Regions from separate parts of the Homo sapiens genome. Here region 1 is linked to region 2. Evidence: fine-mapped expression QTL. A gene starts in region 2. The other region holds a variant in brackets. All regions are shown on one strand. Distances are between the middles of the regions. Region 1 overlaps MKX (mohawk homeobox). Region 2 holds the start of LINC02680 (long intergenic non-protein coding RNA 2680).

The links. PIP is the estimated chance that this variant, and not a neighbour inherited with it, causes the effect.
Region 1: its variant is fine-mapped to the expression of LINC02680 in whole blood (TOPMed, PIP 0.91).

What each region holds. Positions count from the first base shown.
Region 1 is chr10:27,707,779-27,723,627 of GRCh38, forward strand. All of the region lies in intron 5 of MKX (mohawk homeobox), which reads right to left. Among named protein-coding and RNA genes, the nearest start is that of MKX-AS1, 29 kb to the right of the region's middle. The variant C/T (reference allele first, on the strand shown) is at 6,852.
Region 2 is chr10:27,557,698-27,573,546 of GRCh38, forward strand. LINC02680 (long intergenic non-protein coding RNA 2680) reads left to right here and starts at 8,490. Exons shown (of 3, transcript XR_007062094.1): 1 at 8,490-9,240; 2 at 12,090-12,236.

The sequences.
Region 1 (15,849 bases), 150 kb after region 2:
CAAACTGAAATGTTCCTCTAGCTAATCCATTTGTGTTTTTAAGGGAATTTTATTTTTTAAAAAGCATATTTTTCTAAATGGAAGCTTATATCCTCTAAACAAAAATGCTTCTGTTTGAAAGTACAGTGACTTAATGTCACACAAGTGTAGATGAAGGTAAACAGGTCTCTGCATTATTCTATCAGAAGTGAGCAGGTTAAACCAAAGCCAACTTTGTATCCTTAAAATAGTGGGAGAGTGGGAGATGGTAACCTTTATACATTTTCTAAATAACGTTCTTCTACATTTTGTTCTTAAAGAAGGAAACTGTTACTTCTCTTAGTTGATTTAATTTAAAAAAAACTAAGAAATCCTTCCAACCATAGAATATTGAAATATTTAACAGCCAGTATGGCATTCACACCAAACAATCACAAGAGATGCTGGCCGTAGAGAACTCAGAGCGACAACTGGTGCATCCTGGCAAGTATCTCACCCCTTGTAAAAAGTACTTTACTTCTCACTTCACACTTTTTTTTCCCTGGTTTAGCTCACTGACCATCACAAGGCCTTCTCCCGTATACCTAAGCCCACAGAAATTAATAATGGTTTATTGTGCACCATTAATGTATTTGTTCATTTATTCATCTATACATTTTCTATTTCTTTAATGCATCAAAAAATTGACTATAGGCCGGGCGCGGTTGCTCATGGCTGTAATCTCAGCACTTTGGGAGGCCGAGGTGGGCAGATCACGAGGTCAGGAGATCGAGACCATTCTGACCAACATGGTGAAACCCCATCTCCTTTAAAATAAAAAAATTAGCTGAGCGTGGTGGCGTGCGCCTCTAGTCTCAGCTACTTGGGAGGCTGAGGCAAGAGAATCACTTGAACCGGGAGGCAGAGGTTGCAGTGAGCCAGGATGATGCCACTGCACTCCAGCCTGGGTGACAGAGCGAGACTTCTTTTCAAAAAAAAAAAAACGACTATTGCCAGATAATATGTCGAGTACCAGGGATGAATGAGACAAATCTATACAGTTGGAACTCCATGTCTGCATCTGCAGATCCAACCAACAGTGAATCGAAAAATATTTGGAAAAAAATAAACAATAAAAAGCAGCAATACCGGTTGGGTGCAGTGGCTCACGCCTGTAATCCTAGCACTTTGGGAGGCTGAGGCAGGTGAATCACCTGAGGTCAGGAGTTCGAGACCAGCCTGGCCAGCATGGTGAAACCCCGTCTGTACTAAAGATAAAAAAATTAGCTGGGCATGGTGGTGGCTGCCTGTAATCCCAGCTACTTGGGAGGCTGAGGCAGGAGAATCACTTGAATCTGGGAGGTGGATGTTGCAGTGAGCTGAAATTGTGCCACTGCACTCCAGCCTGGGTGACAAAGCGAGACTCTGTCTCAAAAGAAAAAAGTAAATAAATAAACAACAATACAACAAAAAATACAGATAAAAAATACAGTTTATAATACAAAAAAATACAAATTAAAAATAGCAACTATTTCCATAGCATTTACATTGTATTAGGTACTATAAGTGATCTAGAGATGATTTAAAGGATACAGGGGGATGCGTGCAGGTCACATGCAAATACTATGCCATTTTACATAAGAGACTTGAGCATCTGTGGATTTTGGTATTGGTGGCAGAAGTAGGGTAAGTTCCTGGAACCAAGCCTCCCAAGATACAGAGGGATGACTGTACTGTAGGGTAGTCAACATTTAATGAGGCGAACAAACCAGTTCTTCGCACTGATTTCTGGTAGGACTGGTAACAATAGCAAAACAAGGGTGAGCTGATCTGAGGATGTGGCTCTGTTCCACATGTGTGAGTGGCCATGAAGACAGCAGGGCTTCCTGAAGATGAAGATCCTGTGCCCCTCTGGAGTGGGATGAAAGGGATACTAGCCAGTTTTAAGCCAAATTAAACTCTGACTTCCCTCTCGATGCCTCTTCTTTAATATGAGTTATAATAAAAGCCCTTTCCATAAATTTCCTCCCACCACCACCACCATTTGGGAAGCCCCGTGACTCTAAGGCAGTGCTGTCAATAGAATTATAATGTGAGCTACATGCAAACCACATAAGTCATTTAACATGTTCTAGTAGATGCACTTACAGTAGAAAGAAAAAGTGAAAGTATTTTTAATAAAATATTTTATTTAACCCAATATATACAAAATAGTATCATTTTAACATGTAATTAGTATAGAAATTATCAATGAGATATTTTCCATGCTTTCTTTTCTCATATATTTAAACATATCTCAATTTGGACTAGTCATATTTCACATGCTGGGTTGCCTCATGTGGCTATTGGCTACCATATCAGACAGCACAATTCTAAGGGCTCTCTAGGCAGAATGAACAAGTGAACCACTCTGTGGGCTGTTCCTTAAATTTCATAGTGACATAGTGAATCCTGAGGATGCCTCAGAAGTTCAGAGATGCCATAGTTTCCTATAGCATTCCTGTGGAAGCAGAGATTCCTAGAATTGTCCTGCAATGAAAAAGTTGAAGATGAGCTAGGGCTTGATTTGTGGCCACATACTTTGCTTCCTATTCTTGATCCCTGGTTTAAAGTAACTTCTTATTCTGGATTCACTACTGACTGGTCACAAGGACTGGATTCCCCCTCTCACCAGCTCATCTTTAGTTTCTGCATTAGCATGAGAGGGACACACTCCCCAATGTCCTCCAATAGATCAATCAGAGAGTAAGCTAAAGCCTAAGGCCCAGAAGGGACTCCTCCTCTGGGGGCAGCATGGGCAGGGCCAATTCCCAGTTTGAGAATTTCTACCTTTTCCACACAACTGCAGAATTGGCAATGGGTCTAATTCCATTTCTGGTCTATCTCTAACTCCATATTTCTGCTAGTTTTTAATTTTTTATTTTTATTTATTGATTGATTGAGATAAAGTCTTGCTCTGTCACCCAATCTGGAGTGCAGTGGTATGATCTGGGCTCACTGCAACTTCCACCTCCTAGGTTCAAGTGATTCTTGTGCCTCAGCCTCCAAGTAGCTGGGATTAGAGGCATGAGTCACTACATATGGGCTAATTTTTGTATTTTTAGTAGAGATGGGGTTTCACCATGTTGGCCAGGCTGGTCTCAAACTCCTGACCTCAAGTGATCTGCCTGCCTCGGCCTCTCAAAGTGCTGGGATTACAGCCGTAAGCCACTGTGCTCAGCCAGTTTTTGTTTGTAAACATTTGTGCTTACCAATTATATTTATAAGTCATATTATTGGACTGGCAAGAGTTTCCTTTAGAAACGTGTTCAATCTTAGCCCAATCATATCATTACTTTTCAAGTAAGATGATAATAATTTTTTTGTACTATCCATCACAGGTATGAATAAAACTAGATGTGCTAGAATACCCTGGAAACAGAGATAAATCCCAGGCAACAGTGCTTTAAAGTCACAGACCACCAACAAGAAGAGAAGCTTCATCACTGGGAAAAGAATGCATCTCTCAGAATAACATAGCTTCATATTTGAATCAAATTAAAAATACATTAATATTTTAAAACATTTCTTTCCTAAAAGCACTATCTACTCTTAAAATGCTATTTTATGTCATTATCTATTCTTATTTCATAATTGTCACTTTTTTCTTTTCTTTCTTCCTTTCCTTCTTTCCTTCTTTCTTTCTTTCTTTTCTCTTTCTTTCTTTCTTTCTTTCTTTCTTTCTTTCTTTCTTTCTTTCTTTCTTTCTCTCTCTCTCTCTTCTTTCCTTCCTTCCTTCCTTCCTTCCTTCCTTCCTTCCTTCCTTTTTCTTTCTTTCTTTTGTTCTCTTTTCTTTCTTTCTTTTTTTCTTTTTTTTTCTGGGTCTTGCTTTATTGTCCAGGCTGGAGCGCAGTCGCACAGTCATAGCTTACTGCAGCTTCGAACTCCTGGGCTCAAGTGACCCTGCTGCCTCAATCCCTCCCCAGTAGCCGAAACTACAGGCGCCCACCGCCGTGCTCAGCTAATTTTTAAAACTCTTTTTTTTTTTTTAATAGAAATGGGGTCTCGGTATGTTGCCCAGACTGGTCTTGAACTCCTAGCCTCAAGCAATCCTCCTGCTCTTGGGTGCTGGGATTACAGGCATGAACAACTGTGTTCATCCTTCACTTTTTCTTATAAAACAGGTATCATTTCCCATAAAGGACAAGAAGCAGGTAGACTGATAAGCATGAACCAAGGTAGATTTTTGTTGGATCAACTGACCTGTTTTCTTTTTTCCTAGAAGTTTCCATACCAACCTCTGCTTCTAGATTGGCCAGGTGAAGGAGACGGGCAGGGCCATAAGCATGGGATCCCGTGGTGCCCCACACCAGCTGTCCTGGCTTGGATACAGCTCTGGAGTGGTCAAAAGAGCGCTCTGTCCCTAATCATCAACTCTGCTCCAAAAAGGAACCTGAAAAAAGCTCTAAACTCACAGATCCAAGAAGCCCAGACATTCCCATTGCTGTCTTCGAATGGGATTCTAAAGCCAGGGGGATGATGTTTTAGGGAATCCTTGAAACTCCTACAATTATAAACAGGTGTGCATGAAGAAAATACACTACCATTTAATGTCCCAAACGCCTTATAAGGAAGGTGAAGGGGACCTAGAAAGCCCCTTAAGTTCGCTTAGCATCTCAGTAAGTGGTCTGAGCATGGAACAGAGTTTGGGAGTTGAAGCAGGAGAGACCTGGGTTACACTACAGGTAAAGAACATGGGATTTTGAGGCAACTGGGGATTAGGAGGTAAAAGGAAAAGGTGGGAGGGGGAAGAGTAGAACCAGTGAGGTGCTGTGAGGCTGGAGACCCTGGGAGGTGAAGCAGGCAAGGAAGAGTCCCATGTCGGGGTGGCCAAAGGGCACTAAAGAATGAAGACAAGTAGTGCTCTGTAGGAAATCATATAAACTGCTGTGCCCAGGCACAGTGGCTCAGGCCTGTCATCCCAACACTTTGGGATGCAGAGGTGGGAGGATTTCTTGAGGCCAGGAGTTTGAGACAAAACACGACAAGACCCCGTCTCTACAAATAAAATGTTAGCAAGGTGCAGTGGTGAGTGCCTGTGGTCCTAGCTACTAGAGAAGCTGAGGTGGGGGGACGGCTTGAGCCCCAGAGCTCAAGGTGGCAGTGAGCCATGATCATGCCATTGCACTGCAGCCTGGATGACAGAGCAAGGCCCTGTCTCTAAAAAAAAACAACAATAATAAAGTCATATGAATTGCTGTGATGGAAGGTCCTCCTTCACTCCCTCTGAATCTTCCTTCAACTGTACCACGTGCACAAGCTTTCCGAGAGTGGGGATCTTCTGGCGTTTGAGGAAGGGAGTATATTTCACATCTGAATCCACGCGATGAGGAACAGGGAGCACATATGTGGAATGGCAACACGACCCAAGCACCAAATATACCATATGCTTAGAAGATGGAGCCCTTGGGCATCTCTAGAAATCTTCAGAAGTGTCTGACCTTCCATAGTGTGCAATCAAGTATTTAAGGGATTGCTATTTAGATCAAAAGGATCAGAGATACCCTTGTTGCCATCTGGGCTACACAACAGTGTCTATGTGTTTGTGTGGGTTTAAGGGGGTGGATGTGCATTTTTCTGAAGAAGGATGCAAGGCTTTTTACCCAATTTTTAAAGCAGTCCATGTACAAAAGGAAGTTAAGAGTGACTGCTTTAGAGAGTTCTATTCCGTAAATGATTTTTTTATTTTGAGTTGACTTAACCAGGATGGAAAACACAGTAAAATCAAGTGGAAAGAGCCTGAACCAGGAGCTTAGAGACTTAAATTTTCTTTCTGGCTCTGCCATTAAGTAGCTGTGCAAGAGATGATCACTCCCTCCCACCCTGCATGAAAGCAGGAATAATTATCCTTATTTTTACCTCATAGAGTTATAATGAGGATCAAATAAAATAACAGATGTTCAGGTACTTTCTACAGTACACAGTGCAACACAATATACGGTATTATTAGATCTAATCTGGCATTAGATTTGCTAATCTAATACCAGAATAGTAAGTACAAAAATGACCTTAGTAAAAATATTTTTACAATTCAACCGTGGATACCATGGATGTTATTGCCCTCTTCTTGCCATGATAAACAATGGCGTTCTGCTTTAGATGATATTTTCATCATACATTCAACATTTGGAGTTTCACTGTGTTCTAGCCTCACTTTACAACTTCTATTTTGTGACTTTTCTTACTTCTCACCTGCTCCTCTGTAGGCGAGTACAGCAAATTTGTGCAAAGACCAAAAAAAAAAAAAAAAAAAAGAGGCTTTGCTTGCTTTTTCTCTGCATGGCAACAGGCATGACATTTGATCTGACACAGGGATTAAGTCATTCATGAGTGGAGCCCAAAGGGAGGAACAGCTCCAAAAAGCAACCAGGCTCGCTGGTACTACAACATCCAGAAATTCACAGTCGCTTCTGCTACAGTTATAATTTGTAGTCTGTCTGGCACTGAGAAATCTAACTGCAGTCTCTGTGGTTTAAATAAAATGTATGTAGAGCAGCTTGGAGCCATGTTTTAAAATGTTCCATGTTATTTTAGTTCAAGGACAAGCTTTTAAAATTTAAAAAAACCTTTGGCTTTAATGATAGATTAAAAGTGAAAGTTGTTTTAAAGGAATGTCATTGAGTCCCATTGTTAGAGAAAGCGCTTGACATTTTTTAAAATTAATTATTCTCTTAAAGTAACAATCTTCATTAATACAAGGTGATCAAAAACAGAGTATGTACTCCCTCATCAAGACAACATTTTTGTGGTTTCGAAACTATGGTAGTCACAGTTTGCCCACTTAGTATTATATTTTCCAGTGATTTCAGTTATATTTTACAACCAGGATGCAATATTTTAATAGCCGTTACTGC[C/T]GACACAATGACAGACTCAACCAAAGGAAGCTGATATTTCTGGTTAACATGAAATGTAAGAAAAACTCAGTATCTTAGAACCTAAACTTATGAAACAGAAGTTGACTTATGCTGTACATATAACAAAACGATTTATGGCAAGATTAGTTTAAAACACCAAGTGTCTGCTCTGTCCTTAAACCTTGATTAGATGTAAACCTTTTGTTTTTGGAATGTATCTATTCTGAAAATCAAGGTGCAACTTTATTTTCTGTGGATTTACAGAGTGATGTGAAGTAAAGGGTGTAAGTCGAATCTACAGGCAGGGGCAGTGACTGAGGGCCTGGACCCTAGACCCCAGGCAGGGTCTCTCTTCCTTTCCTGCCTTTGGCATTCTGAGGCCACTCAGATCTTTAGGCCATAGGAAGGAACTTGACTGCAGTCTTGTTTTCTTAACAGACTTGCTGTCCCTTTCAAAGGAGCAGCTCTCCCCACTAATAAGGAGCCTGTAACCCTTGTTCCATGCAATTGCTGTACTTTCCTTTATCATAGTTTTGGCCTCCATGGCTCTCAGGAGAATTGCTGCAGGCAGACGCTTGCTTTGCCCTGGACACTGTGTTATGTTGCTGGAGTCCCTCTCCTCTCTACAGAGATGTTCAGTGTTCTCTCCTGGGATTCTAAGACCAAAATGCCACCGGCCTGTGCTACAGAGAAGGCTTGGTCCTAATGGCATTCTCTCCAGCCTCAAATGCTCACAGTGGCACTCCGGGAGAAAGGATCTGAAGTAAGACGAAGGAGGGATGAAATAAATTTTAGACTGAAAGTTGTTACTGAAGATGAGGGTGCTACGTGGCTGATCCTAATCTTCTAGAATGAGGAAAGGATTAGGATGGCCTGGAGAAGCCAAGGACTCTCCCTGCAAACTCTCTCACACTGTTAATCCCCTCAGAGATTTAGAAATTCTGCCTTCAAAATACCCTGTGGGAAATGAGGATAATAAGGTACCTACTTCATGGGGTATTATGAGGCTTGAGTAAGAAAATACATGTAGGGCACTTAGTGCAGTGCCTGGCACAGGGATCCCTAGCTATTTTTGTCATTATTATGCCCTGGTATAAGCTATTTTGATGGTGCTCCTTTCATACTTTACTGACGTCAGCTGCCTGAGATGAGAGCCTGCCATTCTCGATTGACAGATGGAAAACCACTTACTCCAGAAGATCGAAGGGCAGACAGAGGACCTATGGGATGGGCTGGGGGCTGGGCATAGCATAAAGACATAGGTTGCTCTGGGCATAGTGGGAAAAAAAGGTAGAGGAAGACATAAAAGCAGGTCTAAGGATCTCTCAAAAATAAACTGCCATCTTTTCCCAGGATTGGGAAAAAGTAAAAGATAGTGCTGAAGAAGGTTTTAGAGTCAAACAGATATGAATTCGAATCATGGTTCTGCAACATCTCAGCTTATATGGGCACATTCTGCTATTTAAGTCTGTTCCCTCATCCTTAAAATAAGGATAGTAATATGTACATCACAGAGTTATTGTAAGGACTAACTAAAATAATACATGCAAGTGTAGCACATAGCACAATGCCAGGCACATAGGAAATGCTTGATAAATAGCAGCCATTATTATGTGTGATAAACATTCATCATGCCATGGGGAATAATCTAGCCAGCTACCTTAGAAGCACATTGTCAGGCTACTAGGGAGGCTGAGGTGGGAGGATCACCTAAGCCCGGGAGGATGAGGCTGCAGTCAGTCATGATCATGCCACTGCACTTCAGCCTGGGTGACAGAGTCAGACTCTGTCTCAAAAAAAAAAAAGCAAAAAAAAAAAAAAGCACACTGTCAATTGCCTGATGCTGGCCTGCATGTGAAAATGCCTACTTTATGTTATGAGATAAAATACAAGTAACCTTAAGGAAAGCAAGATTGACTGAATGGATAAAGAGAACACGTGTTTTCTGTGCTCATATGTAAATAATTATGTAAATTTCAACTAACTTACTTAGACAGGATTTGATTACTCCATTTATAGATTAGCCATACCAAAAGCATTTAAAGCGGTACATTTTTTTGTACTTTATAAGCTCACACTCATCATAATGTTAATTGTCTAAACATTTGTGGTTGTACGGGCCAAACCTTACCCAAATCCCGCTGCCACATGATCTATGCTGGGGTAGGAAGAATTTTGCCCTCATGACTTTTCAACCTGGTATTACATCTGTGAATATGTTACGTTCCATGTTAAAAGGAACTATACAGATGTAATTAAGATGATCAATCAGTTGACCTTAAATAGGAAGATTATCTGGATGGGCTTGAGGTAATTACATGAACCCTTAAATGCAGAGCTTTTTCCTGGGGGAAGGCAGGGGGAGAAGTCAGAGAGGTTCAAGCCTGAGAAAGACTCAACATGTGGGTGTTGGTTTGAAAGTGCCAGGAGGCCACAAGGAAGGGAGTTGGGCAGCCTCTAGAAATTGAGAGGCAAGGAAATGTGGGTCTCAGTCCTATAGCCACAGGGAAATGAGCTGTGTCATTGGCCTGGATAAGCTTGTACGTGGGTTCTCTCTTAGAGCCCAGAATGACACCTTGATGTCATCCTGGTGAGACCCTGAGCAGAGAACCTAGCTATGCCATGCCAGACTTCCGACTTCCAGAACTTTGGGCTCATAAATGGGTGCTGTTTAAAGCTACAAAATTTGTGATGATTTGTTATGCAGCAAGAGAAAACTAATACATATGCATTAAAAACTGTTCTCTGATTTATAACTGTAGTCATCAGTTTTCAACTTGACATTGTTAATGAATTCAGAAACCACATACTACATTCCTGACTGCTGCATGCAAGCTGTCTGTTCCTGGCCATGTAGGTACCATGATCTCAGGCTGGACGTCTGGCATTTCTCTTGCCCTTCTTAGCTGCAGAGGTTTCACTTAATATGTTCGTAGAATATGTGTGTGGAGATGACATTGCCCATCAGCATCTCCAACAGGATATACAGAAACATTGGAAAAGAAAACCCTTCAAATTCCCCTATTCCCAGGGAAAGCCTGGTGGAGGAGTATGCTGCAATTGTTAGCTAGAAATTAGGTCTGGATATTTGCTGTTTATGATTTTTGCCCAGTGGCGAGATCAACTAGTGATAACATGTAAAACTCGACCTCATCAGCGTGATTTTAGCACCTTAAAGGATGAACCAGAGAACTAGCTCTATAATTCAGGGAAAGACCCATGCAGCATAACAGGGACTGCCTAACACAATGATGATAAGTGCCCTGCAAACAAAGGACTCTAGAAATATTAGTTACTCCACTGAAAGCTTGCTGCTCTTGGAAAGATCTTGGGAACAGTGGCTTATTTTAAATTCGTTACTGTGTAAGCATCATAGTTTCCTCCTGGTGACAGATGAACAATCAACCTTATTCCTGAAGGAAGAAAGAAAACTCACAGAAAAATATTCTGTGGTCAGTTCACCACTGCTCAGGGACATAGAAGTATGGTGAAATACTCAGTCATCTCATTCACAGTCAAACAAACCAACGAAGAATCTAAAGCGCTAAGCAAAGACAATACACTGTATTATTACTAAGAAGAAGAAGAAGAAAAAGAAGAAATAATAATGAAGGTATTAGAGGAAAGCAAAACTATTTTGACATTTTCACAATAAGCCAAATATGCAAATTTAAATATGTACTTTATTGATATGTTTTCAAAATATGATAATCTTTTCCCTCCCATGGTTTTGTTTTATTTTGATGTATAATTTTAGTCAATTACATTTGTAGCGCTAGCGAAAATTATTAAAATAACCCAAGTACAAAAGGGTAAAAAAGCAATATGAAGCATATGATATTTAATTTTCCATTAATCAATAATTTTGCTTGAAGGAAATATTGGCAAGAAGGAGTGGAATTCTTAGCTCCTTGTTTTTACTTTAAAAAATCCCAGGAGTCCTCACTCAAAGAACCTAAGTTTTCCACTGGAAAGACAAAAAGAAAAGTCAGGTCTAGTGTGCTACAAGCTTAACGACATAGTAAAATAGTATCCACTTGGACTCCAGTCACATTTCAAAAGTACAGTACAGATTAGGTGCACAACTGCCAAGTAATAATATATCATATTATTATAATTATGGCTTTTTTTATTTAACTAAATTATATTTATCTCTTTATTCAAGCACCATAGTTCAGGAAGTCTTACCTATCACAATGCATCATGTTTTTGTACATGAAACCTACCAGGAATGTTGCAACAATTCCCACTGCTCCATTGTGTGCACAGTTACTCTGTATTTATTATTCGTTGATATTCAGAATCTATGCTTAACTTTGAATGTGTGCAAATTCTCCATAAAAACTCTCAGAAGTAAGGAAAACATCTTTTACCATAAAATCATTTGCTAAAAGTCTGTGTTATAGAATTACCCTTTAAGAGGGGGTACTGAATAAGCTTTATTAATTTCTCTCTCGAAATCTCATTAAATTGCAAAATGTAAATTTGAAAACAAATACATGCTTAATGGGGCTCAAAAACAATAAAAGGTACCATTGCCAAGTCAGAAAAGTTGAGAAATTCATGGAAAGGAAAATACATATGGCATCAAGTTGGTGGGGAAATCCAAACTGGGAACCACAACTCAAAACAGGTGGAGGGCAAGACCGTGGAGAGTGTGAGCTGCTTCTCCCAACAGGGCACAGATGTTCCAAGTGCACAGTTCACAAAGAATAAGTAGCCTACCAGGGGAATCAAGAAAATTATCAGTTACGAGACAGCTGTCAGAAGAGCTAGGGCATACCTCTTCTTCCTCTCTGAGTCCACAGAGAGCTTTCTGGGTCATCTAACCGCAGCATAAAGCTGCTACAAATGCTCTTTAAATAGGTTAGGGGACCTGTCTAAGGGGGGTTCCTAGAAAAGGCTTTAAGGCCATTAAGAGGTACAGAGTAGAGATTCTAGTAACTTCTGATCTCTACAGGGATCATAGCTGCTATGACAAAGTAGTGATAAGAAAAAAAAGATGTTCTTGGAGAATAAAAATAAGACACCAAACTTAAAAGAAAAACTGCAGTAGGAAAATTGATTTATAGGGCCAGGCATGTTGGCTCCCATCTGTCAATCTCAGAACTTTGGAAGACCAAGGTAGCAGGACTGCTTGAGGCCATGAGTTTGAGAGCAGCCTGGGCAACATAGTAAGACTCCCATCTCAACAAAAAAAATTTTAAAATTAGCTGGGCATGGTGGCACATGCCTGTAATCCCAGCTACTCTCGAGGCCCAAGGTAGGAGGATTGTTTGAGCCCAGGAGTTTGAGGCTGATGTGAGCTATGATTGTGCCACTGCACTCCAGCCTGGGCAACAGAGTCTCAAAAAAAAAAAAAAAAAGAGAGAGAGAGAGAAAAAGTTGATTAAAGTATGAATGGGGGAAAAGTTAAAGACCAAATTATTAATAATAATCTAGAAGATAAAGCTAAAACTGTTCAGAAAATGGAGGAGAAAGATGAGAAACATAAGAGGAAAAGTAGAGAACCAAGGAATCTCAGGCTAAGATCCTTTCACAAGTGAATTCTTTTAAACTTTCAAGGCATCAGGAAGAGTTAATGCTAACTTTATTTAAAATTTCCTAGCATAGAAAAAGATAAAATACATTCCAGCTCATTCAATAAGCCTAACATAACTCTAATACTAAAACTGTGCAAGGAGACCATTAGGAAAAAAAAAAAGAAAGCTAAAGACAAATCTCAGTTAAGAATTTTGATGCAAAATTATTAAATAATGTTAATAAAGTGAATCCAGAAATATATTAAAAGAATATTATATTGATATGGAATAAAAACTTTCCCAAGAATTCAAGGATGATTAAGCATTAGGAAATGTACTACTGTAAATAACTTAAATAGATTAAAAGAGGACAACTAGATGACAATCTTAAAAACTATAGATACAGCAGTTTGTTGTAAATGCAATGACCTATTCAGTTAAGTGTGTGGTTGGGGAGATATCTTATTAAATAATCTAGGAATGGAAAGAGAATGCCTTAACTCAATAAAGTGATTACACCAGAAACCTTCTGCAAACATTATACTCTATGGTAAAATATGAGACAAATTCTCATTAATGTGTGTTATTACTGCTGTGAGTCAATGATGTTTTGTAGGACCTGGCCAACATGATGCAATAAATGGAGAGAGGAAGGAAGGGAAAGAGAAGGAGAGTAAATACACAAAACTTACTATCTGAAGATGAGATACTTGTGTACTTGAACAATGGAACTAGATATAAGAAAAATATACAAAATGCAACAGCTTTCCCGTATATCCATTATAGCTATTATTGAAAAGAACTCATCTGCAATAGAAACAATAAGAACAACAAATAAAAATCCAGAAATTAACCTAATGAGAAATATCCCAACCCTACGTAAGGAAAACTGTAAAAACTAAAAAGATGACCAGAATAAATGGAGAAATCTGCCATGCCCTCAGTGGGAAGATTTGATATAAATATCATGGACAAAAATATTCTCCAAACTAACATTTAAAGTCAATGAAATCCCAAATTAACTTCTAACAAGAGTTTTTAAAATAGAATTATCAAACTTAAAGTTCTACTAGAACAATAAATTCAAGGACCTAGATGAGAATATTTTGAAAAAAAAAAATGGAAGTAGACATACCCTGTCATACATCAAAATGGACAATAAAACTACACTCATGAAAATGGTACGCTATTCTGTTCACAATAGGAAACACATGGAACCAACCCAAATGCCCATCAATGATAGACTGGATAAAGGAAATGTGGTACATATACACCATGGAATACTATGCACCCATAAAAAGAAATGCGATAATGTCCTTTGCAGGGACACGCATGGAGCTGGAAGCCATTAGCCTTGGCAAACTAATGCAGGAACAGAAAACCAAACACAGCATGTTCTCTCTTATAAGTGGGAGCTGAATAATGAGAACATGTGGACATAGGGAGGGTAACAACACACACTAGGGCCTGTCATGGGGAGATCAAGGGGAGGGAAAGCATCAGGAAAAATAGCTAAAGCATGTTGGGCTTAATACCTAGGTGAGGGGTTGACAGGTGCAGCAAACCACCACGGCACACGTTAACCTATGTAACAAATCTTCACATCCTGCACATGTATCCCAGAACTTAAAATAAAAAGGAAATCAAATGTCATGCTATTAATATATGTTTAAGTTTGATAGAATACAATAGAGTCCAGAAATAGGCATACATATAAAGGAAGTCAGTATATAATGGGGGTAGTATTTCAAATCAATAAGGAAAGGTAGAAATATTCAGTAAAATGTGTTGGGACAATTGGCTGTTCATTTGGTGGAGAAAAAAGTAGTCTGATCATGATCTCATATAATTTACAAAAATAAATTGTAGGTAGATTATAAGTATATAACATGTACTTAAAATAATAAAAATGTCAGAAAATATACTTCTGATAAAAATTATCAGAAAAGTTAAAATATAGCATACTTCTATAATCTTGGGAGAGATCTCCTAAAAATGACACACGACATAAGGCAAGCATTGCCAGATGTAAACACGTGACATCTACCCTCTTGGCCTCCTACCCCATGGTCAGAGCCCAACACCCCCACTGGGCAGAGTCCTTTACCTGTCACCAGGGAGGTTTACTGGTGCCATGCTCCCCAATGCTCCTTTGCAATGTCCCTGTCTTGTGGCTCAGAGCCCAAGTTCTGTTCTAATAGAGACATTGCGGTGTGCATTTAGCTATGACTTTCTATAAACTGTGGGCTTCCTTGTCTCTCTGTGCATTGCACAGAATTGCATGCTGTCAGAGATGTAAGGTACTTATGGATTATCTTGTCATACATCTTCGTTTTACAGCTAAAGGAACGAAAGCCATGATTAATAAAGGGACTTGCCTTAAAACACACACCCAGTTGCTAACAGATCTGGCCAATACACAGAGCTGCTGATTTCTAAGGCATTGCTCTCTGCTCTGTCCACATTATAGCTTCCTGTGGTCTCATCTACAAGTGGATAATTTCGTGTAGGTAAGGAGGTTGGTTGGAGAGAAAACTGGGGCCCTACAAAGTCATTTTCCAAATCACAGTTGAAGGAGTGGGGACTTTACTATAATCAAAATATACATTTGATGTGTATTCCTTCAACCCAGCCTCTACCCAGACCTTTATGCTGTCATTTTAATGAAAGCATCTGAGAGACAACGTGAGGTCAAACATAGCACAGATGGGTCATATGCCTCTACGGTTCTTCTCTGAGCTTCCTGTGAGCATTTCACTGAGTCTGTGTGTGTTAGGGGGTGGGGATTAGAATGGAATTTAAGGGTTGGTAATATGTCGTGAAATCATAAAGTTGAGCTTTTTTATATTTTCCTAATGAGAGGAAAGTTATTGTAACTATAAACTAAATTTTACTGCTTCAATCATAGTAACCATGAAATAGTCCTCGCACACCTTTCAAGATAGTTGAGAATTACTATTCCAGATGATTTATGCTTATACTTTTCCAAGCACATTTTAAGAAAAAAATATACATACAAAATTTTCTGAAAGAAAAAAGTACACAGTTGAAAGAAAAAAAGTGCACAGTTAGATAAGCTAGAGTCCCCATGGGTTGCTGCATAAATATGAATTAGTGCCATATTTCTAAAAAGGTCTAAAATAAATGAACCCAGGAGACACCGTCAAAACTAAAACAAGACCAGTTGCACTAGTGACAAGGTTATGAAGAAACTCCTTGACCCATCTGGATAGATTTAGCAGCTCAGAAGAGAATTCTAGGAGAAGAAAATATGGCAAGATCAGATGCAACCAGAACAACAATAAGAAAAAAATGGAAAACAATCATATCACTCAATCTTGGTTGCAAATTAGCAAAGGCTGTGTGGATTCCAACAGCCAGCCACAATATTGCAACCATCCAGCTTCCTGCTAGGCTCAGGCATCACAGCAAAGACACTTGGCACCAAATAGCTTCTGGCTAGGAATTTTATGTTT
Region 2 (15,849 bases):
AGAAATACTTGCCCATTTCTATTGCTCGGGTCACGTGGCTTAAGATAGAACTTGAAAGTTGAGAGACGGCGGAGCGTGGTGGCTCACCCCTGTAATCCTGCACTTTGGGAGGCCGACGCGGGCAGATCCTTGAGGTCAGGAGTTTGAGACCAGCCTGGCCAACATGGCGAAACCCCGTCTCTACTAAAAATACAAAAATTAGCCGGGCGTAGTGGCGTGCGCCTGTAGTCCCAGCTACTCCGGAGGCTGAGGCAGGAGAATCGCTTGAACTCGGGAAGCGGAGGTTGCGGTGACCTGAGATCGCGCCACTGCACTCCCGCCTGGGCGACAGAGCGATACACCGTCTCAAACAAACAAACAAAACAAAAAAAAGTTGAGAGACAATAATACAAAAAACAAGAAGGAAAGATCTTTTGATTTTCAGTGAGGATGTTGCAGGGAAGGTGGAAAAGGAGCATCAAGACCCTTTTAAATTTTGTTATTCTCTAAATTTTGCAATTTAGCTATTAGCTTTGTAAAGTGTACATTCAGGGCAGAATTGTAGCCTGTCGGTGTTAGGTTATTTCTCTGCAGTCAGTTTGTGGAACATAATTTGACTGATGATAGATCTAAATCCACGCAGTAATCACTCAAAATGAGATGATATTTATTTCATATGCATGTGCTATATAATACTATGGTTATCAAAAATTGAATTAGGAGAATTGCGCCCAACGAGAATGGGCTTGTCTATGTGAGATTCATGTGGTTGTTATGCTTTCTTTTTAATAGTCCAACAAAAGAGAAAAGGCAAGATATAAATGAGTGATTCCGGAATCCATGCACCTAGAAAATGATTGTTTTGTCTATCTAGATTGGTTTTCTTTTGCATGTGAATTTCCAATTGTTCCAGCAACATTTGTTGAAAAGACTTTCTTTGCTTCATTGCATTACCTTTATTTTGACAAAGATCATTTGGCTATTAGAAACCCACGCGCTTGGAAAATGAGATCTCTCAGTTCTCCATGAGGTGGCAGCAGCTCCTCAGTAACATGAGAGACCCTGTGGTGAAGGTCAAGTTCAAAGACGCCTTAGGCACTGTCCAGCTGAGAATTTTCACAGGCTGTACTTTCTTTGGCCAGGTTTCCTCTGTGACTTTGTTTCTTTTATTTTCTTTTTGAGAAAATTCAGCAACAAATCACCTTTTGATTATATCTGGGCCTTCCTGTTGTAAGATGGACTGCTTATACTGGTCAACAGACAGATTTCACAGCAGTCCTGGGGCCAAATTATAGTTTAGCAGCCACAGAGATTGACTTAGCTGGAGGTGGAGGACATGGAAGCATAACCGATCTTGCAATTTTGGAGGAGAGAATTGCTTCCTTTCTATAGCATACATTTATCTTTTTATAGAGAAGTTTTAGGGGGTTGAGTAGAGGCATTACAGATAAAATGAGGATGCTACCAGTGTTTTATAAAACTGAGCCAATTTAGGGTTTTAAGATTACTTATTTATATATTTTTATATTTTTCCTTTAAAACCATTTTAGAGATTATACTGTGTTTCCTTTTGTGAGAGAGAAAACTGTTTTCTGGAAGCACTCAGTTAAAATAAAGAATTTAAAATTGCGCTTCATTTTCCATCAAACTTTTAAAACTAAATTGTTTGATGATTTTGACTCTAATATATTGAATACATTTAATTCTAATAGGCTTCCTTCTCCAAATGTTTCAAATTATAAGACAATCCTTTCATTGTATTCTTCATCAGAACCTGGCACTGTCCCTCTTTCTCTGCCTTTCTTTGCTTAAATTACGCTATTCTGGATGAGTAATGATAGACATACTTGATCTAAGTATATGTCTGTAATGTTAAAGTCATTTTTAGAACGTTCAGAAGCCCTTTTTCTGCTAACATTCTTTTTTTTTTTTTTTTTTTGAGACGGAGTCTTGCTCTTTCACCAGGCTGCAGTGCAGTGGCGCGATCTCAGCTCACTGCCACCTCTGCCTCCCGGGTTCAAGCGGTTCTCCTGCCTCAGCCTCCCGAGTAGCTGGGACTACAGGTGTGCGCCACCACTCCCAGCTAATTTTTGTGTTTTTAGTCGAGACAGGGTTTCACCATGTTGGCCAGGATGGTCTCAATCTCTTGACCTACTGATCCGCCTGCCTCGCCTCCCAAAGTGCTGGGATTACAGGCATGAGCCACCGTGCCTGGCCTCTGCTAACATTATTGATCACACTTACCACTTCAAAAATCTTGGTTCTAGTGATAGTCTACATTTTTATTGTTGTTGTTTCTATTTTCTTAATTTTTCTCCTAGAGTGATTAATTCCATTCTGTACTTTTTCACAAATAGACTGTTTTTAGAGTAGTTTCTTGTTTACAGCAAAATTGATCAGGAAGAACAGAATTCCCATATATCCTCTGCCATCACACATGCACAGCCTCTCCATTATCAACAACCTACACCAGAGAAGTGCCTTTGTTACCATCAATGAACCTATAGAGATGCGTGATTATCAACAAAGTCCATAGTTTACATTAGAGTTCACTCTCGGTGTTGTACATTCTGTGAGTTTTGACAAGTGTTCAATGACATGTATCTACCATTGTGGTATCATACAGAGTAGTTTTACTGCCCTAAAATTCTCTGTGGGCTGGGCGTGGTGGCTCACGCCTGTAATCCCAGAACTTTGGGAGGCTGAGGCAGGCAGATCACCCGAGGTCAGGAGTTCGAAACCAGCCTGACCAACAAGGTGAAACCCTGTCTCTACTAAAGATACAAAATTAGCCGGGCATGGTGGTGGGGGCCTGTAATCCCAGCTACTCAGGAGGCTGAGGCAGGAGAATCGCTTGAACCCAGGAGGCAGAGGTTTCAGTGAGCTGAGATTGTGCCATTGCAGTCCAGCCAGGGCAACAAGAATGAAACTCCATCTCAAAAAAAAAATTATCTGTGTCTATTCATCCCACCCTCTCCTTTAAGACCTGGCAATCACTGATTATATATATATATATATATATATATATATATATGTGTATATATATATATATATATATGTGTATATATATATATGTGTGTGTGTGTGTGTGTGTGTGTATATATATATATATATATATATATATATATATATATATATATATATGTATATATATATTTTTTTGAGACAGAGTCTTGCTCTGTCACCAGGCTGAAGTGCAGTGGCAAGATCTCGGCTCACTACAACCTCCGCCTCCCAGGTTCAAGCCATTCTCCTACCTCAGTGTCCTGAGTAGCTGGGACTACAGGCATACCCCACCACGCCTGGCTAATTTTTGTTTTTTTTTTTTTTTTTGGTAGAGGCAGGGTTTCACCAGGTTGGCCAGGATGCCTTCGATCTCCTGACCTCATGATCCGCCCACCTTGGCCTCCCAAAGTGCTGGGATTATAGGCATGAGCCACCATGCCTGGCCAATCACTGATATTTTTATCATATCCATAGTTTTGCCTTTTCCTGAATGTTGTATAATTGAAATCATTACAATATGTAGGATTTTCAGATTGGCTTATTTCACTTAGTAATATGCACTAAGTTTCCCCCATGTCTTTTAGTGACTTAAATCATTCACTTCTATTTTAGCACTGAAGAACATTTTATTCTCTGTCTATACCCATTTGTATTTCTGCTCATCTACTGAGGGACATCTTATTTGCTTCCAAGTTTTGGCAATCATAAATAAAGCTGTCATGAACTTGTGCATACAGGTTTTTGCATGGATGTAAGTTCTCAATTCATTTGGGAGAATCCCTGAGACTGCCAAGCTTTTACAAAGTGGCTTTTTGCATGCCCACTAGCAATGAATGCTAATTCCAGTTGCTTCACATCCTCACCAGCATATGATGTTGTCAGCATTTTGGGTTTTGGCAATTCAAATAGATGTGTCGTGTTAGCTTGTTGTTGTTTTAATTTGCAATTCTCTAGTGACATATGTTGTTGAGCATCTTTTTATATGCTTATTTACCATTCTTGTGTCTTCTTTGGTGAGTCGTCAGTTAAAGTCTTTTTTAGTTGGGTTATTTGCCTTCTTATTGTTGAGTTTTAAGAGTTCTTTGTGTATTTTGAATAACAGTTCTTTATCTGATAATGTCTTTTGCAAATATTATTTCCCAATCTGTAGCTTTTCTTTTTATTCTATTGACTTGTCTTCTGCAGAGAAGAAAATTTAATTTTAATGAAGTCCAGCTTACCAATTATTTCTTTCATGGATCATGCCTTAGGTATTGAATTTATAAAGTCGTCGCCATCCCAAGGTCATCTAGGTTTTCCCCTGTATTAGCTTCTAGAAGTTTTATAGTTTTGCATTTTACATTTAGGTTTATAATCCATTTTCAGTTAAGTTAGTTAGGGGTGTTATGTCTATCTAGATTGACTTTCTTTTGCATGTGGATTTCCAATTGTTCCAGCAACATTTCTTGAAAAGACTTTCTTTGCTTCATTGTATTGCCTTTATTCTTTTGTCAAAGATCAAAGTCTTCAAGTCAGATAGTGGCCATCCTCTGACTTTGTTCTTCAATATTGAGAAGGCCCTTCTGGGTCTTTTGCCTTTGGGATTTTGGAATTGTATTAGATTTATAGATCAAGTTAGAAAAACTGACATTTTGAAACCATTAATTTTTTTGTATCCATGAACATGGAATATCTCTCCATTTATTTTGTTCTTTGATTTCTTTCACAGAATTCTGTAGTTTCTCTCATATAGATATTATACAGATTTTGTTAGATTTACAGCTAAGTATTTCATTTTTGGTGGTGCTAATGTGAGTAATAATGTGTTTTTAATTTCAAATTCCACATGTTCCTTGCTGTTATATAGGAAAATGGTTGATATTTGGAAGGCAGCTCTGCTCACCACTATACCACTGAGACATGATTGACATTTGTATGTTAGCCTGTATCCTGTAACCTTGCTATAATTTCTTATTAGTTCTAGGCGGTTTTTTTTTTGTCAATTCATTCAGATTTTCTACATATACAATCATGTCATCTGAAAACAACCATAGTTTTATTTCTTCTTTCTCAATCTGTATACATTTTATTTCCTTTTCTGGTCTCATTGTATTAACTAGGACTACCAGTATGATGTTGAAAAGGAGTAGTGAGAGGAGAGCCTTACCTTTTTCATGATTTTAGTGGGAAAACTTCTAGTTTCTTGCTATTAACTATGATGTTAGCTGTAGGTTTTTGGAGATTTCTTCTTATCAAGTTGAGAAGTTTCCTTCTATTACTAGTTTTCTGAATGGTTTATCATGAATGCATGTAGGATTTTATTAAATGCTTTTTCTGCATCTATTTGTGTGATCATGTAATTTTTCTTCAGCCTATTGGTGTGATGGAATTACACTAATTAATTTTTGAATGTTGAAACTACCTTGCACACCTTAGATAAATCTCACTTGGTCATAGTGTGTAATCTTTTTATACATTGTTGCATTCTTTTTGTTAATATTTTATTGGGGATTTTTGTTCATGAGAGATATTGATCTGTAGTCTTCTTTCTTAATAATGTCTTCATCTAGTTTTCGTATTAAGGTAATGTTGGCCTCATAGAATGAGTTAGGAAATATTCCCTCTGCTTCTGTCTTTTGGAAGAGATTGTAGAAAATTGCCATAATTTCTTCCTCAATATTTGGTAGATTCACCAGTGAACCCATCTGGGTCTGGTGCTTCCTGTTTTGGAAGGTTATTAATTATTGATTTACTTTCTTTAATAGATATACGCCTAGTCAAAGTATTTCTTCTTTTGTGAGTTTTGTTAGATTGTGAAATTTCAAAGAAATGGGCCCATTTTTTAAAGTTATCACTTATACGTAAAGTTACATAAACATACATATATATATATATAAGCATAGATAATAAAAGACATTGTTTTTATTACTATTATTCTTATTTTGAGACAGAGTCTCACTCTGTTGCCTAGGCTGAAGTGCAGTGGTGTGATCATGGCTCACTGCAGCCTCAAGCTGCTGGGCTTAAGTGACACTCTTAGCCTCCCAAGTAGCTGAGGCCACAGACATATACCACCATACCCTTCAATTATTATTATTATTTTGAGGCAGGGTCTTGCTCTGTTGCCCAGCTGGAGTGCAATATTGTAATAATGGCTCACTGCAGCCTTGACCTCTGGGGCTCAAACAGTCCTCCTGCCTCAACCTCCTGAGTAGCACTACAGGTGCATACCACCATGCCAGGCTAATTTTGTGTTGTTGTAGAGACAGGGTCTCATTGTGTTGCCCAGACTGGTCCCAAACTCTTGGGTTCAAGAGATCCTCCCACCTCAGCCTTCCAAAGTGCTAGAATTACAGGTGTTAGCCACTGCACCCAGCCTCTATTATTATTTTGAACATTTATTGGTTAGAAAACTGAGTAATAAGAAAAGTAAAAGTTTTTGTCCAACCATATCTTATTCATTTTCCAGTGCTAATCTTTTCTTTATGTAGATCTGAGTTTCTGACCTGTATCAGTTTCCTCCTCTTTGAAGAACATGCTTCAACATTTCTTGCAAGGCAGGTCTACTGGCAACAAATTTGATTTTTGTTTGTTTGAGAAAGTTCATTTCTCCTTCACTTTTGAATAATTTCTCAGGGTACAGTATTCTAGGTTGGTGGCCTTTTATCTCAAAACTTTAAACACTTCCCTTCACTCTATTCTTGCTTGCCTACTTGCTGAGGAGACATCACATGTAATTCTTATCTTTGCTCCTCTAGAGATAAAGTGTTTTTTTTTCTTTTGCCTTCTTGAAACACTTTATCTTTGATTTTTCTTCAGTTTGAATATGATATGCCTACATGTAGGGTATGTGTGTGTGTGTGTCTGTGTGTGTGTGTGAGAGAGAAAGAGAGACAGAGAGAAAGAGAAAGAGAAAGAGAAAGAAAGAGAGAGAGAGATTTATCCTGCTTGGTGCCCTCTCAGCTTCCTGGATTTGTGGTTTGGTGTCTGACATTTATTTGAGCAAAATTCTCAATGATTATTGCTTCACTTAATCTCTTCTGTTCCTTTCTCACTTCTTCGTTTTCTGTTTTTCCAATTTGAATATTTCTATTGACATTTCCTCAAACTTAGTGATTCTATCCTCAGTCATATTCAGTCTACTAACAAGGTCATCAAAGGCTCTTCATTTCTCTTACAGTGTTTTTGATTTCTAGCATTTCTCTTTTTAAAAATTGTAGTAATAGCATTTAACATGAGACCTATTCTTTCAACAAACTTTTAAGTATTAGCTATAGACATTTAATTGTACAGCAGATGTCTGGAACTTATTCATCTTGTATAACTAAATCTTTATACCCAATGAATATCAACTCCCCATTTCCCCCTCCCCGCCGCCAGCCTCTGGCAACCAGTCTTCTTACTCTCTGTACGGGTTTGGCTTTGGCTATTTTTAGATACTTCATGTAAGTGGAACCACTTATATGAAGCATCTAAAAAAGTATTTGTTGTCCTGTGACTACCTTATTTCACATAGTGTAATGTCCTCCACATTCATCCATGTTGTCTCATACTGTAGGATTTCCTTCTTTTCTAAGGCTGAATAATACTTCATTGTTTGCATATATTTTCTTTATCCATTCATCTGTCAATGGACATTTAGATTATTTTCCACATCTTGGCATACATAAATAGAGTTCCTTATCCTTAGTTCAGGTCTTCGTTAAAACCTGAACTTCTCCATTACCACTGTAATCTGTAACATTAACATTCTCTAATGGATCTCTCTGAATCTGACCTTCCATCATTCAGTCTAACTATTACATTGTTAGTAGTGTATTTTTCTAAAAGGCAAAAATAATAATCCTTGGTAATAGATGAGTAGCTCATAAGAGGCTTAGTCCATTTTGTGCTGCTAAAACAGAATACCACAGACTGGGTAATTTATAATGAACAGACATTTATTGGCTTATAGTTCTGGAGGTCGAGAAGTCCAATATAAAGTACTAGCATCTGGTGACGGCCTTCTTATGCATCATAATGTGGTGGAATACATCATATGGATGAGAGAGACAGCAAGAGGGGACAAAACTCATCCTTTTATAAGAAACCCACTCCTAGGCTGGCGCAGTGGCTCATGCCTGTAATCCCAGCACTTTGGGAGGCTGAGGCAGGCAGATCACCTGAGGTCAGGAGTTCAAGACCAGCCCGGCCAACATGGTGAAACCTCATCTCTACGAAAAATACAAAAATTAGCCAGGCATGGTGGCATGCACCTGTAATTCCAGCTACTCAGGAGGATGAGGCAGGAGAATTGCTTGAACCCAGGAGGCGGAGGTTGCAGTGAGCTGAGGTCACACCACTGCATTCCAGCCTGGGCAACAGAGTGAGACTCCATCTAAAAAAAAAAAAGAAAAGAAAAAAAAGAAAAGAAAAGAAACCCACTCCTGTGATAATAAACCTACTCTCACAATAATGGCATTAATCCATTTATGAGGGCAGAGCTTTTACAAACTAAACACCTCTTAAAGGTCCCATCTCCCACCACCTCCACATTGGGGATCAAGTTTCCAATACATGAACTTTAGGGGACACATTCAAACCATGGCATAGGTTAATCTTTTACACAATTGAAATTCACTAGAAAGGTGAACAAACAAGAACATGGAATCCATAGTCAAGACAAACAAACGCTGAGATATTTGAATTACCAGACAAAATCTTGGAAGGAGCTATTATGGTCATCTTCAAAGACTTAAAGGGAAATGACCACAATGACTAAACAAACTTATAATTTTATTGGAGAAATGGATAAAAGAAATCAAATGGAAATTCCAGAAATGAAAAGTACTGTATCTGAAATGAAATGTTTTCTGGGTGGGTTTAGCCAGTAGACTAGAGATGGCAAAAGAAACTAGCATGAACTGAAGATGAGTGAACTGAAGGTAAAATCAAAAGCTAGAGAGAAAATTTTGAAAATAGCCAAAGGAACAAGGATACAGATGGTGTCTTATATCTCATTTGAGCAGTGGAGCCCAGAGATAATGGAACAACATATTAAATGTGTTGAGATGAAAAAAATTTGCTTGCCCAGAATATCATATCCATCTAGAATATCATTCAAAAGAGAATGAAGAAATTTTGTGATCAATGAAAGCTGAGAGATTTTTTTTTTTTTTTTTTTTTGCCAGCTCATCAACACTACAAATCTAAAGCTGAAAGCTCAGGGTACGGTAATGACAGATGGAAACTTCATTACAGAAAGCAATGAAGAACACCCAAGTGGTAAATATGTGGGTAAATATGGAATATCAGATATCTATTTTTATCTTACTTTAAAAAAAGAAAACTGTTTTTCAATAGCAAAATAACAGCTAGTGCTTATTGAGATATTTCAATGTTATTATGTCATTTCACACACATTAATCCACTTAATTCTCATAATAAACCTCTTTTATAGAACATTATCTCAACAGCTGCAAAATATGCATTCTTCTTTTTGTTTTTTTTAAAAACAAGGTCTTGCTCTGTTGCCTAGGCTAGATTGCAGTGGCATGATGATTGCTCACTGCAGTCTCAAACTCCTGGGCTCAAGCAATCCTCCTGCCTCAGCCTCCCAAGTAGCTAGGAATACAGGTGCGTACCACCATGCCAGACAATTTTTATTTTTTGTAGAGATGAGGTCTCACCATGTTGCCCACATTATTCTTAAAAGCATATGGAATGTTCACCAAAATGTATCATATCCTGAGCCATGAAACAAGTCTGAATACATTTCTAGTAATAAAATCTTACAGAGTATTTTTTCAGACTTTAACAGAATCAAAATAGAAATCAGTAACAAGAAAACTTCTTTATTCTTTTTATTTTATTTTAAGTTCTGGGATACATGTGCAGGACGTGCAAGTTTGTTAATAGGTAAATGTGTGCTATGGTGGTTTGCTGCACCTGTCAACCCCTCATCTAGGTATTAAGCCCAGCATGCATTAACTATTTTTCCTGGGGCTCTCTCTGGCCCTGCAACCGCCGGCAGGCCCCATTGTGTGTTGTTCCCCTCCCTGTGTCCATGTGCTCTCATTGTTCAGCTCCCACTTATAAGTGAGAACATGTAGTGAAAACTTCTTTATTCTCATCAAAAATTTCAGTAAGATGTATCTGCTATGAGTTTCTCCTCACAACTTCTGCTAGGGTTTCAGTGGACTTGTGTTCTCTATTTTCTTTGTCTCTTAACCTTTTCCCCATCACTTTATTACTTCTTATTTTGCACTGTATCCTGGAGGATCACTCAGCTTGCATTTCCAGGTCGCCACTTTAATCTTCACATATTTCCTTTCTGTATCTTAGCCCACAGATTGAGATTTATCTGTGGAGTTGGGGGATGACAATCATTTCTATTTTCCAACCACTCTGATCACTTTTTCAAAGAAACTTTTTCTTGTTGTGATAGCTTCTCCTTTCTCTGAGGATACTAATGATTATTTTGCAGTCTTCTCTTGTTTCCTTTGTAAATTCTGTTTCCTCATGTGTTAATTCTTTTTCACATTGTTATTTTCTCAGCTATCTGGTGATTCTTAGATGTGTGTTTATATTGATGAGGGAAGATTACCATTTCAGTACTTTTAAGTGAAAGGTATTCCCTCCGTAAGTTGAAAGTGCTTGGATTCCTGGAAGTGAATGTGGATTCCAAGGTTATACAGGGAGGGTCACAGAGGATGTGCATGAAGCTGAGCTTCCCTCTAGGGAAGTGGTACCTTGTCTTGTGGGTGCAGGTCTGCTATTTTTTTTTTTATCAGCTGCAATTCATGTGTGAAGTTACCTCATTTCTGTGGCCCCAGCGTTTTTGTCTCTGAATCTTTCAAATCAGGACTCGTAATTTGTTTAGAGGAATGTACTGTCAACATATTGAAAGAAAAAAGAACAACGTTTCCACATGGTCCCCTAGTTTGTAATCACAGAAACATGAACTTTGAGAACTGGAAGGGCTATCAAGAGTTGAGGGAATGGAGTCATAAGTCAGTAACTTCTCACCAGGGATGGAGACATGTGTTAGTTTCCTGTTGTTACCAAACAAGTAACCACAGACTTAGTGGCTTGAAACAACACAGATGTATTGTCTTATAGTTCAGGAAGTTAGAAGTTCTAAAATCAAGGTGTTGACAGGGCTGCATTTTTCTGGAATCTCAAGGGGAAGGTCTACTTCCTTGCTGTTGTGGGCTTCTAGAGGCCGCCCACATTCCTTGGCTAGGGTCTCTTCCTCCAGCTTCAAAACCAGCAGCACTGTCTTCAGATCTCTCTCTTCCTCTAATCTCTGCTTCTGTCATCACATCCCCTTCTCTGAGTAAGATCCTCCTGCCCCTCTCTTGCAAGGACCCTTGTGAATACATTGGCCCTATCCAGATAATCCAGGGTAATATCTCCATCTCGAGGTCCTTAACTGTATTAGTCTACTCTCACGCTGCTGATAAAGACATACCTGAGTAATTTATAAAGAAATACCTGGGTAATTTATAAAGTAATTTATAAAGACATACCTGGGTAATTTATAAAGAAAAAGAGGTTTAATGGACTCACAGTTCCACATGTCTGGGGAGGCCTCACAATCACGGCAGAAGGTGAAAGGCATGTCTTACATGGCAGCAGACAAGAGAATGAGAGAGTGCCAAGTGAAAAGGGAAACCGCTTATAAAATCATCAGATCTTGTGAGACTTACTCAGTACCACGAGAACAGTATGGGGGAAACCACCCCTGTGATTCAATTATCTCCCACGGGGTCCCTCCTACAACACGTGGGAATTATGGAAGCTACAGTTCAAGATGAGATTTGGGTGGGGACACAGCCAAACCAGATCCTTAACTAAATCGATTTTGCAAAATCCCTTTTGCCATGTGAGATTCACTGGTTCTGGGGATACAGATGTGACCATTTGGGGGAGACCATTATTCTGAGGTGTGTGTCTCTTTTTGAGCTGGTGGGGCACAGCAGTGGGTGGTCTCAGGAGCACTGAGGATGAGGCATCTTAGGTTTGAACATTAGAGTCTCTAATTGTTCCTCTACCCTTTCCCTGTTGGTCTTCCTACTTTCCCCTATCTCCATACTCTCACAATGATAAGCATTCTTACTGAGCCCGTACGTTCTCTTTTCCAGCTGGTCTTGGCTCATTCCTGCTCCTCCCTGCTAGTATCTCAAAGCCACCTTACAGGAATGTAAAAGCCACACTACCCAATTACTGCAACTCAAAGGATAAATGTCAACATCTATACAAAGTATTGTCAGAAAGAGTGTGAAAAAAAGGTAAGGTTCTTTGTGGAGTCTGTACAGGCCTGTAAAAATCCAATTTATGTACCAGAAATGACTACATATGTTATGCAATAGAAATACCTCTACCAAATCCTGACATGTATATGTGTTGGGCCTGCATTTAATCGAGGGTCGTCTCTTTAGATTATGATGTGAAATTCCCATTTGAGGTCTTTGATGGGAACCACATGGCAGAGCTTTGCTGCTTAGCTGTAGAGCGGGGCAGCCCCGCTGCTGCACAATGCATCCTGTGTAGCTTTCATGTTTGACAGATGGCCTGCTTTTCTGTGTATATTATCAGATGCCTCCTTCTCAAGCTGTAAAATCTGATGATAGAGCCCAAATTTAATATATTCAACCTGAGCTGTTGATAGAATTAAAAACTTATCAGCCAAAGATGTCATGTTTACTCAACATCAGAAACAGAGTACTTTTTAATGTTGTTTTTGTTGATCTGGCCAATATACTCTCCAAAACGTTGTGCTCTGAAGAAAGGGCAGAGAAGCAAAAGAACAGATAGAGGAGCAGTGGGAAGTGGTGTCAAGTCCTAGCAAGGTCATTCCATTGTGGAGGGAGGCCAGCTGACATTTCATTTTGTAATACTTAACAAGACAGAAGGGCTGGGTGTGGTGGCTCATGCCTGTAATCTCAGCACTCTGGGAGGCTGAGGAGGGAGGATCGCTTGAGCCCAGGAGTTCGAGACCAGTCTGAATAACATAGGGAGACCCCATCTCTACAAAAATCAAAAATTAGCCCATGTGGTGGCATGCACCTGTAGTCCCAGCTATTTGAGAGGCTGAGGCAGGAAGATCACTTGAGCCCAAGGGTTCAAGACCAGCCTGAGTAACATGGCAAGACCCCATCTCTACAAAAAATACAAAAATTACCCAGCCGCGGTGGAGTGAGCCTGTAGTCCCAGCTACTTGGGAGGCTGAGGTGGGAGGATCACTTGGGCCTGGGAGGTTGAGGTGGTAGAGAGTTGTGATCGTGCCACTGCACTCTAGCCTGGGCGATGGAGTAAGACCCTGACTCAGAGGAAGAAAGAGGAAGAAGAATAAGAGGAAGAAGAAGAAGGAGGAGGAGGAGGAGGAGTAGACAGTATATGATAAATAATTTCACAGAATAAACATTATTTCATGTATGCTCTTGATTGCAACACAATTTTTCTTTTACAAATTTTTTAAAAATTATGAAATAATTCAGACATATAGAAAATAGCAAACACTTAGGTGCTTAAGATCCAGATTTAACACATCTTAACACTTGCCTTATTTACTTCAGATATTATTAAAAATAGGACAAATGTAGTTAAAGTCTCCTTTGTGTCTTTCCATGACAGGAACATCCTCTTCCCATTCTGTGGGTCTGGCCATTCTTCTCAAGTTGACATCTTTCTCATCTAAACTTTTGCCTCTTAGGAAGTTTCTGTGCAGTCATAAAAGTAAACATTATTGGCCAGGTGCAGTGGCTCACGCCTGTAATCCCAGCACTTTGGGAGGCCGAGGTGGGTGGATCACTTGAGGTCAGGAGTTCGAGACCAGCCTGGCCAACATGGTGAAACCCCATCTCTACTAAAAATACAAAAAATTAGCCAGGCGTGGTGGCGGGTGCCTGTAGTCCCAGCTACTAGGGAGGCTGAGGCAGGAAAAGCTAGCTGGGCATGGTGATGGGTGCCTGTAATCCCAGCTCCTCGGGTGGCTGAGGCAGGAGAATCACTTGAACCCTGGAAGAGGAAGTTGCAGTGAGCCAAGATTGTGCCACTGCACTCCAGCCTGGGTAAGAGAGTGAGAATCCATCTAGGAAAAAAAAAAAAAGAAAAAGTAAACATTATTGTTTGGTGTGTTTGAAACTTTACATAAATGGCATTATACTGCACCTATCATTTTGCAACTTGATTTTGTTACTCAACATTGCTTTTGAGATTTATTCATAAGGATACACGAAGCTTCAGTTTATTCATTTAAATGGCAACGTTCTGTTTCATTGTAGTAACATGCCACATTTTATTTACCTATTCTCTTACTGATAGGTACTGAAATTGTTTCCAGTATTTTGCTATTTTTAAAAAAAAAGCTGCAAAGAATCTAGTTATTGCTTTTCTTGTTTTGTTTGTGTGTGTATTTGCTTTCTAGTTTGTTAATTTCTGTAAAGGTTTTCACTTTCAACTTTTTAAAAAAGATTTACTCCGTTAATCTTTTTCTAATACCCCCTCCCCCTTTTTTAGAGACAGGGTGTTGTTCCAGGCTGGAGTGCAGTGGTGCAATTATAGCTGACTGCAGCCTGGAACTCTTGGGCTCAATTGATCCTTCAGCTCCAGCCTCCCAAGTAGCTAGTACCACAGGTGTGCACCACCATGCCCAGCTGATTTTTAATTTTTTTTTTTTTTTTTTTTTCCAGACAGAGTCTTGCTCTGTCGCCCAGACTGGAGCACAGTGGGGCGATCTCGGCTCACTGCAAGCTCCACCTCCTGGGTTCAGGCCATTCTCCTGCCTCAGCCTCCCGAGTAGCTGGGACTACAGGCGCTTGTCACCACGCCAGGCTAATTTCTTGTATTTTTTAGTAGAGACAGGGTTTCACCGTGTTAGCCAGGATGGTCTCAACAGTCTCCTGACCTCATGATCCGCCCGCCTTGGCCTCCCAAAGTGCTGAGATTACAGGCGTGAGCCACCGCGCCCGGCCGATTTTTTTTTTTTTTTTTTTGGTAAAGATGGAGTCTCCCTATATTTCCCAGGCTGATCTTGAACTCCTGGCCTTAAGCTATCCTCCTGCTCTGGTCTCCCAAAGTGCTTAGATTATAGGCATGAGCCACTGTGCCCAGCCTCCTAGCCCTTTGAATTAAATGGCTAATTCTTCAGGCAAAAAGTTTTATCAGAAATAAAACCTTAGTACGTTTTCATAGGTTTTAATGTGCTATATATTCCCTGCCATTTAATTCCAAAATTTCAAAATTTCCATTGTGAGTTTATCTTACAATTATCAGTTGTTTGTCACTTTGACTTTTAGTTTTCAAACTTGTGCTGTTAATTTTTTTGGAGAGGAAGATTCTATTTATTATTAATTTCTAACATTGTTGTAGGAATCTGGTATAAGACGTGGGATGTGTGCATTGCAACTCTTTGTCCCAGTTTATACCTGCTGCCTAATCGTAATTATTATGTCCCCTTTTACCTCAAATGTGTCCCAGTTGTGCACAACATATTATATGGTTATGGTTTGTGTGCATGTGTGTGTGTCCGTGTGCATGTCATTGTCTCATTAAAATCTCCTCTATCAAGAATAACTTTTTGTCTACTTGACCTATCCGTTTAAGATGGAAGTGTGTTAAAATCTCCCACTCTGATTTTAATTCAATTTCATATCTCCAGTCTTGCCCTCTTACCTGAACTCCAGACTCTTGTATCCTTCTTGTACCCTCTTGTACCTCTACGTCACACCTTCAAGGGCCTGTCCCTGTCTGATAAATCTTAAATGTTACATGTGCAAACAGAATTCTTGATTTTTCTTGCAAATAGCTCTTTGCTCAGGGATCCACCTCTCAGGAAGTAACACCTTCTTTTGTCCAGTCATTCAAGCCCCAAATCTTGTAACCATCTTGTCTTTCTCTTGA